2 separate regions of the Homo sapiens genome follow, and region 2 is linked to region 1. The links come from fine-mapping of genetic effects on gene expression. Tissue or cell type: whole blood. Region 1 holds a variant in brackets; the other region holds the start of a gene. All regions are shown on one strand. Distances are between the middles of the regions.

Region 1 (5,753 bases):
TGGCTGGCTGCCTTCACGGTGGCCAGGGAACCTCATGGCTGTTGTCACAACAGCTTGAGTGCCATGGACCAGCAGCCAAGATGGCACAGCCCAGTCCCAGCCGGCCCTGGTTCCCTCGTGCTACAGGATACGGTGTTGTCCTGAACATAACAGAGCAGGCGGCCAGTCCCCAGAGCTGTATGCACCCCACAAAGAGACCCCTTCCCAGGGTCATTCTTCATAGCTCCCCACCCAGGTAGCGGAGCTCCTGGTCAGCGGCGGCTGCTGCGTTCCCCTGTCGCCGTCTGCATCCTCCAGGCATGGCCAGAGCAGGTTCCTTGAACCCCTGAGGAAGCTCCCTTCCCTCCTACAGTCTCAGGGCTGAGATGTAAGCAGCTGAGGCTGTGGTGCAAGCAGACTCTTAATTCTTGTCCTGAATAGCCCTGAGCAGTGTGGGCTCCAGCATCTGACCACGTGGCCTGCCCCCCAGACCTGAGGAGGTGAGGAGCCAGCCTGGCCTCTGGGACCTCTGGGCTGTTGACTGGAAACCTCCCGCGGAGGAGGACGTAAAGGGAGACCTTGGGCTCCATCCCTGCTCTTGCTTATGGCCCACAGGAGGTCATCCCTAGGGACTGAGCCCACAGCAGGGGGCACTGAGCACTGTCCTGACAGCTCCAGCTCCCAGGCGCTCCCACTGTCTTGCCAGGCTGTCCGAGGCCAGGCTGTCCCAGGGTCCGTCTTCAGGTTCGGGGCTCCCTGACAGCAGAGAGGACACGTGGGGAGGGAGAAGACGCCCCTCAGGCTCAGGCTCCGGCTGCAGCAGATGAGACGGGGTCAGTCCTTACTCTGGATGTGTCGTGTTCAGATATTTTGCAGTGAGGCAGCCTCATGAACAGGAGTAATGAGGATGGGCAGGAGGGGCCAAGGAACAAGGCACAGGGGCAGGAAGGCTGGATTCCCTCTGCTGGCGCCAGGGGAACAGGCAGGGCTGGCAGTAACACCACAGGGAGGCAGGGCTGGGCACACATAAGACAATGGTCCTAAAAGGCATTGCTCATGGTGGCCGTGCAGCGCTGACCGTGATGCCAAGTCCCGTGGCTGGCTCTGCTGTGGGGTGTCTAAAGCACACCCGGCTTGTGTCTGTTTAAAATTGAACTTAGGCCGGGCGCGGTGGCTCACGCCTGTAATCCCAGCACTGTGGGAGGCCGAGGCAGGCGGATCATCAGGTCAGGAGATCGAGACCATCCTGGCTAACACGGTGAAACCCCGTCTCTACTAAAAATACAAAAAAAAATTAGCCAGGCGTGGGAGGCTGAGGCAGGAGAATGGCGTGAACCTGGGAGGTGGAACTTGCAGTGAGCCAAGTTCGTGCCACTGCACTCCAGCCTGGGTGACAGAGCGAGACTCCGCCTCAAAAAAAATAAAATAAAATAAAATAAAATAAAATTGAACTTAATAAAAATGAGAAACTGCAGCATCATGGGAGGGGAAGCGCCACGTAGGATCATAACTGAGTAGCTGCTCGAGCTGGGCTGCTGGCTGGCATGGAGCGGCCCCATCACTCGAGGTCTGCTTGCCCTGGGAGGGCTTGGGAAATCTTCACGGCCACCCTCTAACCATCGCTTCCTCTCCTCTCGCCCCCCATTTCAGCAGGAAGGAGCGCCCCACCTCCCTGAACGTGTTCCCCCTGGCTGACGGCACGGTACGTGCACAGATCGGGGGCAAGCTCGTGCCTGCGGGGGACCACTGGCACCTGAGTGACCTCGGCCAGCTGCAGTCCAGCTCCAGCTACCAGGTTTTGTAGCCGTGCCGTGGAGTGAGAGGCTCCTCCCTGTTGCTGGTGTTCCCCGTTCACTGGGGCGGGAGCCTCGTCTGCAGGCAGCCCTTCACGGCTCTCTGGGCCACTCGCCCTCTCCCTTCGTGTGTGGCAGGATGGAGAAACCCAGCCAGGGTGTCAGGGGCTCAGGCTGCCCAGCAGGCCCTGTGTGGCTGTGGCTGTTCCACGCGGCCTCGTGTCGGCACCTGCTAGTCCAGGCTAGACCTCCCTGCCCTTGGATAGACCGCTCTGTAGCCAGGGGTGTACAGTGCCTGTCAGGGTTGAGCTTAGTGATCCTCTCTCAAACCACACCCCCACATAAAGCCTCATGCTCACCCGGGCTCCAGCCAGACACATCCTGCCCCTGAGAGCCACGCCTCTACTCTCGGAGGAACGTCAGTGTCTAGAGTGTGGGGTTTGCCCTCCGTTGGCAGAAAGGTGAGGAGAAAGCTCCTCTTCTCTGGGCCCCTCCCTGCCTGTCCCTGGTAACGCCTCCTGGGTCCTGAGTTTGAGAAAGCAGAGCCTCGCCCCAGCAGGTACTCACAGCCAGAGTGCGGGGGCCCCAGCAGGTTCTCACAGCCAGCCGGTGAGTGCACCTCAGAGCACAGGGGCCCAGAGCCAGGCCACTCCTTCAGGGCCCCAGGTCGCTTGCTGCCAGTTTTGGCCTGTGAGCTCACTGGCCTCAGTGCCAGGTAAGGACAGCCACCTTCCTGGGAAGAAGAGGTGACCCCGGGTCTGGTGGATTTCCCACAGGGGCCGTCAGAGGATGTCCACAGAGGCAGAGCCCTTGGGGCCTGTGGGCTGGGTTGGGCTGGTGGATGTGGGGCCTGGGACTTCTCCAGAAGCTTACTTCCTGCTGCATGCTTTGCCGACTGTCCTTCCACCTCTAAGTGTCCATCGTGCCTGTGGGGGCTGCTGCAGGCTCCTGCTCCGTCAGCCCACCTGCTGCTGCGCTGCTCTGGGAGCGAGCTCCCTCATGGCATCTGGAACGCTCTCCTGTCCTCCCTGTGCTCAGGGCTGGAGAGAGGGTGGCGGGGCTGCGGGCTCCCCGGGCCTTCTGGGCCCAGCCCTGCCACCTGGGCCCACCTCCTCTCACTGTCTCTGGCTCACGCTTCCCGGGCCTGGAGCTGGGACCTGCCCATAGGCATCTGAAGACACGTCAGCCTCAGCCGGGGGGAGCCCTTGCTTGACGCTCTCTGGCCTCCGGGCTGCCTCTCGCGCCCGCTCTGGGCCCGCTCTTCTTCTCATGATGTCTTTCCTTTCACCTCCTGCGTTGTCTGACATCGTCGCTCTCTTCATAAATTGTAGC[G/A]TTTTATGTTTTCGTTCATAGGAGTGTTTTATTTGATTTTTCTTTATTTTAAATTATTACATTTAAGTTCTTTTTATTTTATGCTCTAGGTTTTGAAGTTTTTCTAATTTCTTAATTTTTTTGTTGTTTTTTGTTTTGTTTTGTTTTTGTTTTTATGTACTGTATTTTCAGTGTTTTAACCAAACAGTTGTGGCTACTCATGGTGAGGAATGACCGCTAAGAGTTTGGGTTCTTTCAGTGCATTTGGAGGTCACTGCTACACGTTGATGTTTAGGAGGTTGAGAGGTTTGCCTTTAGGTAAGTTGTGGCCAGGGGGAGTGTCCCATGGGTAAGTGGTGGCCCTGTAGGGTGACGGAGAGCTAGGGGAGGCGCAATCAGACTGCAGAATTCCCCGCAGCCACCATGAGGGTCAGGAGCAGGCCGGGGACCCAGCGTGGAGGAAGGTGGCCCAGAAGCGTTTGTCTGATGTGCACAGCTACACCCTGCCTGGCCACATGGGGTTCCCTGTTTTCTCTCTGCCGGGTGGTGGCAGAGTCGGTGAGACACCAGGTGCCTGTGACACATTGGGTAGACAGGTTCTTTGAGAACGTCAGCACAGACTTCTTGCATGAGCGGTACTCGCTTCCTCCAGCGTGGGGAGTGACATGAAGAGCAAGGGTTTTCCTTTCAAACTGGGCATAGCTGCAGAGCCACAGGCCGTCTCAGACATTTCTACAAAGCCACTCCGGGAGGCGGGCTGCGCCCGTGTGAGGGCTCTCCCTCGGCACTGCTCATCTTTTGGGGCTGGACATGCATGGCCTGGGCCGCTGGGACGCGGTGGGTGTGGAGCAGCATCCCTGGCTTCCACCCACGAAAGCCAGGAGCACCCCCTTCATTTGTGACCACAAAAATGTCTCTGGACTTTGCAAGCATCCCCTCGGGGCAGTCAGCCCAACTGAGAATAGCTACTATAGAGGAAGGTGTGTCATTTTGAGATTCCTTCTAGAGAAACTTAGGAGCCTGGTAGATGAAGCAGAAATGTGTCCTCTGAGTGAGTGGCCGTGTCCGGTACTGAGAGGCCCCGTGCCCTGAGTCTGGCGGTGACCAGAGAGGCTGGGCAGAGGCAGAGGTCAGCACTGGCCATGACTTCTGGAAGTCCCGTCTGCCCTGGTCACTTAAAGGCCAGTATAAGTCAGCTGTGGAGAGGGCTGGATACCCCCTCGACAGCTCCTCCCTGGGTGAGATCCTTAGCATTAGAGTCCCCCACGGTGCGCCCTCTGAGAGACCACGGGAACCCACCCAGCGGCTGCCTGGGACAGGCACAGGAGCCACCTGGGTGCCTCTGAGGCCTTGCACTTTCCCACACCTCAAGGAGGGCCGGGGGCCACGGGCAAGCTCTGCCATAGCGGGTGATCAGGTCAGCTAAGACGAGAACGTTTGGGGCTCTTTTTCTCCAGCTGGTTCAGTATCTTTGTTAGGAAAGACCATTGGAAAGAATGTTTGTTTCGCATTCCGCATTAGTCACATAGAATGCGCTCCTCCCTAGCGAGCTTCCTGAGGTAGACGGCTGGTTGCGGTTTCTCGTAATCCGGGCTGCCCCCACCCTCCAGAATGTCTTGGTGGCGTCCCTTTCTGTGAGCAGGGATTGTGGTTTCTTTGCGCTTGCTCATGTTCAGGGGTGAGCTCTGGTCCAGTCAAGCCACAGGGTCAGCACCTTCTGGTCACTCCCTGGCCCTGACCTGAGCCCGGGGAGGAACGTGGGGCAGGCGCGGGTGGGCCCAGCCTCGAGCTCTTCAGCACAGTGATGGTGACGGGGCAGCGGTGGCGGCACAGCCAGCCCTTCTTGGGTCCCCAGTCAGAGCCCTCTGCCCTACCTGGGCTGGACTTGTTTCTGAACAGCCACAAGCTACAGGGGGCTGCCGCTGTGTCCCTGGCGAGGCACTGGCCCATTACAAGCAATCGTCTGGGGAGGGCACCAGTGGAAAGCCCCGTTCCAAGCCATTTCAGGAGGGTGGCCCTGCTTCCGAGGAGCCGGAGTCAGTGGCCGGATAAGCAGAGCCACTCGGGAGTGGTGAGGCCCGGAAGGGTTAGCCCGGTGGGCGGCAGAGGAGCTCTGGCCCGCAGGGTGTCGGGCGAGGCAAAGTGCAAAGCATTGGTGCGCGGGGCCTCAGGCAGCCACGGCGGAGCCGCAGGCCAGGGACCTGCAGTGACTCGCTCTCCCTCCTCCCTGTGTTTGGCCTTAGTGTCCACAGGATGAAATGTCCGAGTCAGGCCAGTCCTCGGCGGCCGCCACACCCAGCACCACAGGCACCAAGTCCAACACGCCCACATCCTCCGTGCCCTCGGCCGCCGTCACACCCCTCAACGAGAGCCTGCAGCCCCTGGGGGACTATGGCGTGGGCTCCAAGAACAGCAAGCGTGCCCGGGAGAAGCGCGACAGCCGCAACATGGAAGTACAGGTCACCCAGGAGATGCGCAACGTCAGTATAGGTGGGTGCCCACCTCCGGGACTCTGGGCTCCCTCGGGCAGGAGGCAGGGCTTGGTTTGGGTAGATGTGAAACTAATGCACCAGGCGGGCAGTGCAGGCAGCAGAGACGTGTTCCTCACAGCCCGGAGGCTGGGGTCCAAGATCAAGGCGCTGGCAGGGTAGGTTCCTCCTGCGGCCACTC
Region 2 (5,304 bases), 38 kb before region 1:
ACACCTGTAGACCCAACTACTTAGGAGGCTGAGGTGGGATCACTTGAGCCTAAGAGTTCAAGTGAGCCCTGATCATGCCAGTGCCTCCAGCCTGAGCAACAGGGTGAGACCCTGCCTCTAAAAACTGAACAACAAAAAAAATCAGTAGGGTGTCAGCTACGGGAGTTACTGTTTCGGTGCAATCAGATTAGGATGAGAGGATCTGAACTGATGAGCATTGCAGTAGGTGAAAGACGGTAAGTGGCCATTTCTATTAGCATTAAATAGTCACTGATGTGGTTTCATCAGGATTCACAATACATGTGTGGCTCCCAAATTGAGTTTCAAAGTCTTGGGTTCATGGTGTCCCCTGCCCAGCAAAATAAAGTGCAAATCTTACGGAGCAACACATTTTAAGTTCAGGCCTCAAGTACTTCCAGAGACAAAAGTCCTGGGGACACTGGCTCAGAATGGGGGAAAGGGGACCCTGGGCCAAGAGTCAACCAGGATGACATGCAGAATCAGACCTGCAAGGGCTGCAGATACTGTAGTTATGAGGCACACCCAACGCTTAAAGATAAATATGTGGTTGGAAGTATAAGAGCCTATTAAAACTGCTAGAATATAAGAAATCAAATAGGACAAAAACAGAATCATTGGCAGGGTGCAGTGGCTCACGCCTGTAATCCCAGCACTTTGGGACGCCGAGGGAGGCGGGTGGATCACTTGAGGTCAGCAGTTCAAGACCAGCCTGGCCAACATGGTGAAACCCCGTCTCTACTAAAAATACAAAAAAATGAGCCGGGCGTTAATAGCGCGTGTCTGTAGTCCCAGCTACTCAGGAGGCTGAGGCAGGAGAATCGCTTGGACCCAGGAGGCGAAGGTTGCAGTGAGCCGAGATCGCGCCATCACACTCCAGCCTGGGCGACAAGAGCGAAACACCGTCTCAAAAAAAAAAAAATCGGTGCAATTAATAACCCAGTGGATGGGTTAAACAGATTGCACGTAGCTGAAAAGTAACCGAAAATCTGGACTGGCGCGGTGGCTCACGCCTGTCATCCCAGCACTCTGGGAGGTCGAGGCGGGCGGATCACTTGAGATCAGAAATTTGAGACCAGCCTGGCCAACATGGCGAAACCCCGTCTCTACTAAAAATACAAAATTAGCTGGTCTGTAATCCCAGCTACTCCGGAGGCTGAGGGAGAAGAATCACTTGAACCCAGAAGGCGGAGCTTGCAGTGAGCCAGGATCGCGCCACCGCACTCCAGCCTGGGCGACAGAGCAAGACTCCATCTCAAAAAAAAAAAAAAAAAAGAAAATCTGAAGCAGTCAGTGCAGTAGGGAGAAGTGGGCGAAAGGAAGGAGGCCACGCTGCTGGGTTTCAGGATGAGATGGGCGTTGAGGGTGCATTCACAGAATCCCGGGAGGAGCCAGCTGAGCGGGGAAGGCATCAGGAGAGGGGAGGCACTGAGCGGGGCGCGGTGCTGTAGGGAACGGAGGCTCATCAGGGCGGCCGGGATTGAGGCGCAGGCGCTGAGCCTTCACCTAAGTCCGCCGAAGTGTGCAGAGCCTGGAGACGGGATCGAGGTCACCGGAAGCCCACGGTTGCGGGGACATGATCAAGCTACAGCGCGCTGGGGGAAGCGACCACTGCCGCCCCGCGGATCCCACCGGCCTGGCCGGGAGCTCCCTCTGCCCGGCTCACCCGCGCTTCCGGCCCGAAGCCCGGCTTCCTCTGACGTCACGGCCCCTGCGCCCCCTGGCGGCGCGGCTGCGGCGGGACGCGCGGGCACCGCCCCCTCCGGCTGGAGGGCGGGACTTCCGGTGAGTGAGTGACGGGCGCAGCCTCGGCAGCGGCGGCGGCGGAGCCCTGAGGCGACAGCAGCTGCGGGAGGCGACGGGCTGCGGCCTGCGGAACCTGAGGCAGCTGGGGAGGGCCGGGCGCGCCGGCCGGATAGCGAGCCGCGCTGGCGGCGGCGGTGGCCGCGATGATGGAGATCCAGATGGACGAGGGCGGCGGCGTGGTGGTGTACCAGGACGACTACTGCTCCGGCTCGGTGATGTCGGAGCGGGTGTCGGGCCTGGCGGGCTCCATCTACCGCGAGTTCGAGCGCCTCATCCACTGCTACGACGAGGAGGTGGTCAAGGAGCTCATGCCGCTGGTGGTGAACGTGCTGGAGAACCTAGACTCGGTGCTCAGCGAGAACCAGGAGCACGAGGTGGAGCTGGAGCTGCTGCGCGAGGACAACGAGCAGCTGCTCACCCAGTACGAGCGTGAGAAGGCGCTGCGCAGGCAGGCGGAGGAGGTGCGTGGGCCGCGGGACCCGCCCGCATCCCCGTCCCGGACCCCCAGCCAGCCCCGGGCCCCGGACCCAACACCCGTCCCGACCCCAGACCCCGCTCCGGCACCCCGGACCGCGGGACCCCTGGACCCCCAGACCCCGCCCCGAGACCCGCCTGGACCCCATATCCCCCGCCCCGGGACTTCCCCACCCCCTCTGCCCGCCGTGAGACACCTCCCTAGAGCACTCCCCCGCCTGCCCCGGGACCCCACCCCGACTCCCGGGGACCCCCTTTTCCGCCCAGGCCTGGGCCCTGGCCCCCTCCTCCGTGCCCCCAGCCCTGAATCTTCAGCCCCAAACCCGATGTGCCTGGCGTCATCCCCGGGGAGCTCAGCTTCAAAGCCAGGCCTCACTCTCCCCTCCCCACCCACCTCTGCATGACAATTGCCTTTGCTTTCGTGCGTGTGTTCAGTCAAAACCGTTTCCCGACCCCAAGTGCTACCTCTGTTGGCTGCCATTCTAAACCCATCTAGAAAAGGAATCTTTTGGTGTTCTTAGGGGGCTGCAGCCGTCTGTGGATGATGTTGGAGACCTTTCCCTTGTCCCTAATCCCGTATTTTGAAGGTCTGTGACACGGGTGAATTGGGTGGTTGATGTAAACACAGAACAAGGCCGCAGGCGGGCTGCTCCTCTGTCAGCAGAAGGAACACTCGAGTTTCTGGAGGTGATGTCTTTGCCCCCTTGGTTCCTTGCTTGGCGAGATTGTTAGCTGATGTAGCCAGGGCTGAGAAACTCCACTCTGGCTTCTGAGGAGTTAACAGTCTGAGTTTGAAGCGTTTAATTCTGTGCTAGGATGTCTCCATAACCTGGAAATCGCTTGTCTGTGAAGCAGTTACAAGAGCCGGGCCCTGTGGGGAGCACCACTTAGCTTCATTCATTCACCGTCAGATACTGAGCTCGGCCTGCCTGTGTGTGGGCCCAGAACCTCGCCCTTTGTCAGAAACAGGTTCAGGGAGGCTGGTTCCCATCCCTGCTTTGCCTCTGTGACCTTGGCCTGTCGCCTGCCTGGGGTTCGATTTTCCATCAAAGGAGTGAATTGCACTAGGCGATCTCCAAGCCCAGAAATTCTCTCATTCTAGGAGTTAGGTAATGCTGTTTGACTTATGAATAGAAGTGTCTTAGGAAATGAGCTTCAATTCCTTTTCAATTAATTCGGCTTAACACATTCTTGACTTTAATAGGAAAATAAAAGATTGTGTCAGTATTTTGGCTTTTTCTGAAACCAAGGTGATTTATGGCCTAGTTTGGTTTAAAGCGTGTTTATAAAAATCATAACAGTATGTTGTATCATTCCTCCTTTCCTGTGGTTTCTATTGCGTTTGGGCTTCGTGTCTGTCGCGAGGTGGTTATGCATTGATTGGAATGCCCCGGTTCCAGCAAAGCTGAGTTAAAGCTCTCAACCTAAGGGAACGCAAAGGTTCATGGATTTTGGAGCTCAGGGTGACTATAGGCATTTTACTGGGAAGGAAACTTGTCCTGAGAAGTGGAGGGGCTGAACCAAGGTCACCCACCCCAGAAGTGCCCAGCCAGGATGCAGAGTGAACCCGACACCGGCCTGGGCACTTGCTTCCATGTCAGGCAGCTGCAGGCACCGGAGGGCTGCTCCCCAGAAGCCTGGAGTGCCAGGGCTGCCCTCGCTCAGCTGTGGAGCTGTGGCTGCCCCCTGTGCTGGGCACCGCCCTCCACTGCTCTCCCACACTCAGTGGCCTGACCTGGATTTCAGGTGGGTTTCTTTTTTTCACCTTGTACCTGTGTGGTCAGTATAGTGGACGAGAAGGAACTGAAAGGAGAAAATCAAGATGGACAACGTTAAGGCTAGGAATTATAACCTTGCCGCTTAAAAATGAGCTGTGCACAGGATAGGCGCTGCCCAGCTCTGTGCGGTTCACATGCAAGCTGCTGTGAGTGCATCTGCCCTCCCCCAGGGCTCCTGCTGAACCAAGCTGGCGGGTGTGCGTGTGGTTTGCAAAGCTATCACCTTTAGTCTGAGACCCACCATTGCCCCAGCGCTTTAGAGAAGCTGCACCGAGAGCTTCGGGAGCCGAGCCCCGAAGCCAGCCAATGCTTGGCCAGCATGGAGGCTATGATTAAACGCTAACGGGGCGCCCTTGGAAAGACCTCAGGGCTTTACAACTAAGGAAGAGGGCTCGATGCTGTCAACATTTGGCATGCCTACTCCTCTACTGAATCAAGCAGACCTTCATTTCCAACTTTGTAGACCATTGTGCCCTGTGGGTCGGCGTCTTTTCTAGGCAGGGACTTGTGATCACATAGACGTGTGTCTGATAAGAGGGGAGCGGGACGTCACACGCTGCAGGCGTGTCTTGTTGCAGAGGAGCTCCTGGGTGAGCTGTCAGCAGAAGCTCCGTCCCCAGCCACTCTGCTCAAGAAGGCTTAGTCAGAGATGGGTAACCTGAGCCACTGCAGCTTCTGAGCAGACAGAATCCGCAGGGTTTTATAAAAACCTGAGCAGAGCAGACATCCCTGTTCCCATCTTCTTGCCGGTCATTACCACAGTGACTCCCAATGTGCTCTGATAACAGGCAGCTGAGTGTATGAGAGTGACAGGAGCTAGAGAGGGTGGGGTCTCCCGAGAGACTGACCCAAGCCGTGGAGTCTGCAGACCCCAGCCTGAGTGTCAGCCCGGCCCTCAGGAGCCACACACCCTGGGTCCATCCTCTTCCCCTCGCTGGGCTGCAGTGGCCGCGGACTTTGCAAGTCAGTTTCATCTCAAGATCCAAGCACCATCACTGGCTGTTGGTTGCCTGGAGAATTGTGGGCAGGCAGATGTAGCAGAGTCAGGGCAGAACCCTTGACGGGTTCTCAGGGCCGCCGTGGACGGCAGGCACCGGACATTGCTAGCCGCCTACCAGACAGTGCAGTTTCTGGTTGTGCAGGCTCTGATACAAAGTTTTTTAAAACCCTCAAGTTATTTCCCAGTGGAAAAGAAGAAGGTGGGAAACAGCAGCTGAACGGGGTGGGG

The links. PIP is the estimated chance that this variant, and not a neighbour inherited with it, causes the effect.
Region 2: it holds the start of MAPK8IP3, and the variant in region 1 is fine-mapped to the expression of MAPK8IP3 in whole blood (INTERVAL, PIP 0.97). The same link has a PIP of 0.9 or more in monocytes.

The regions. Positions count from the first base shown.
Region 1 is chr16:1,741,703-1,747,455 of GRCh38, forward strand. It overlaps MAPK8IP3 (mitogen-activated protein kinase 8 interacting protein 3), which reads left to right. Exons shown (of 32, transcript NM_001318852.2): 5 at 1,630-1,774; 6 at 5,327-5,573. Among named protein-coding and RNA genes, the nearest start is that of MIR3177, 9.6 kb to the left of the region's middle. The variant G/A (reference allele first, on the strand shown) is at 3,105.
Region 2 is chr16:1,704,373-1,709,676 of GRCh38, forward strand. It overlaps MAPK8IP3 (mitogen-activated protein kinase 8 interacting protein 3), which reads left to right and starts at 1,823. Exons shown (of 32, transcript NM_001318852.2): 1 at 1,823-2,285. The coding sequence starts at 1,968. RefSeq lists silencers at 376-670, 1,577-1,916, 2,187-2,296, 2,317-2,366 and an enhancer at 1,154-2,018.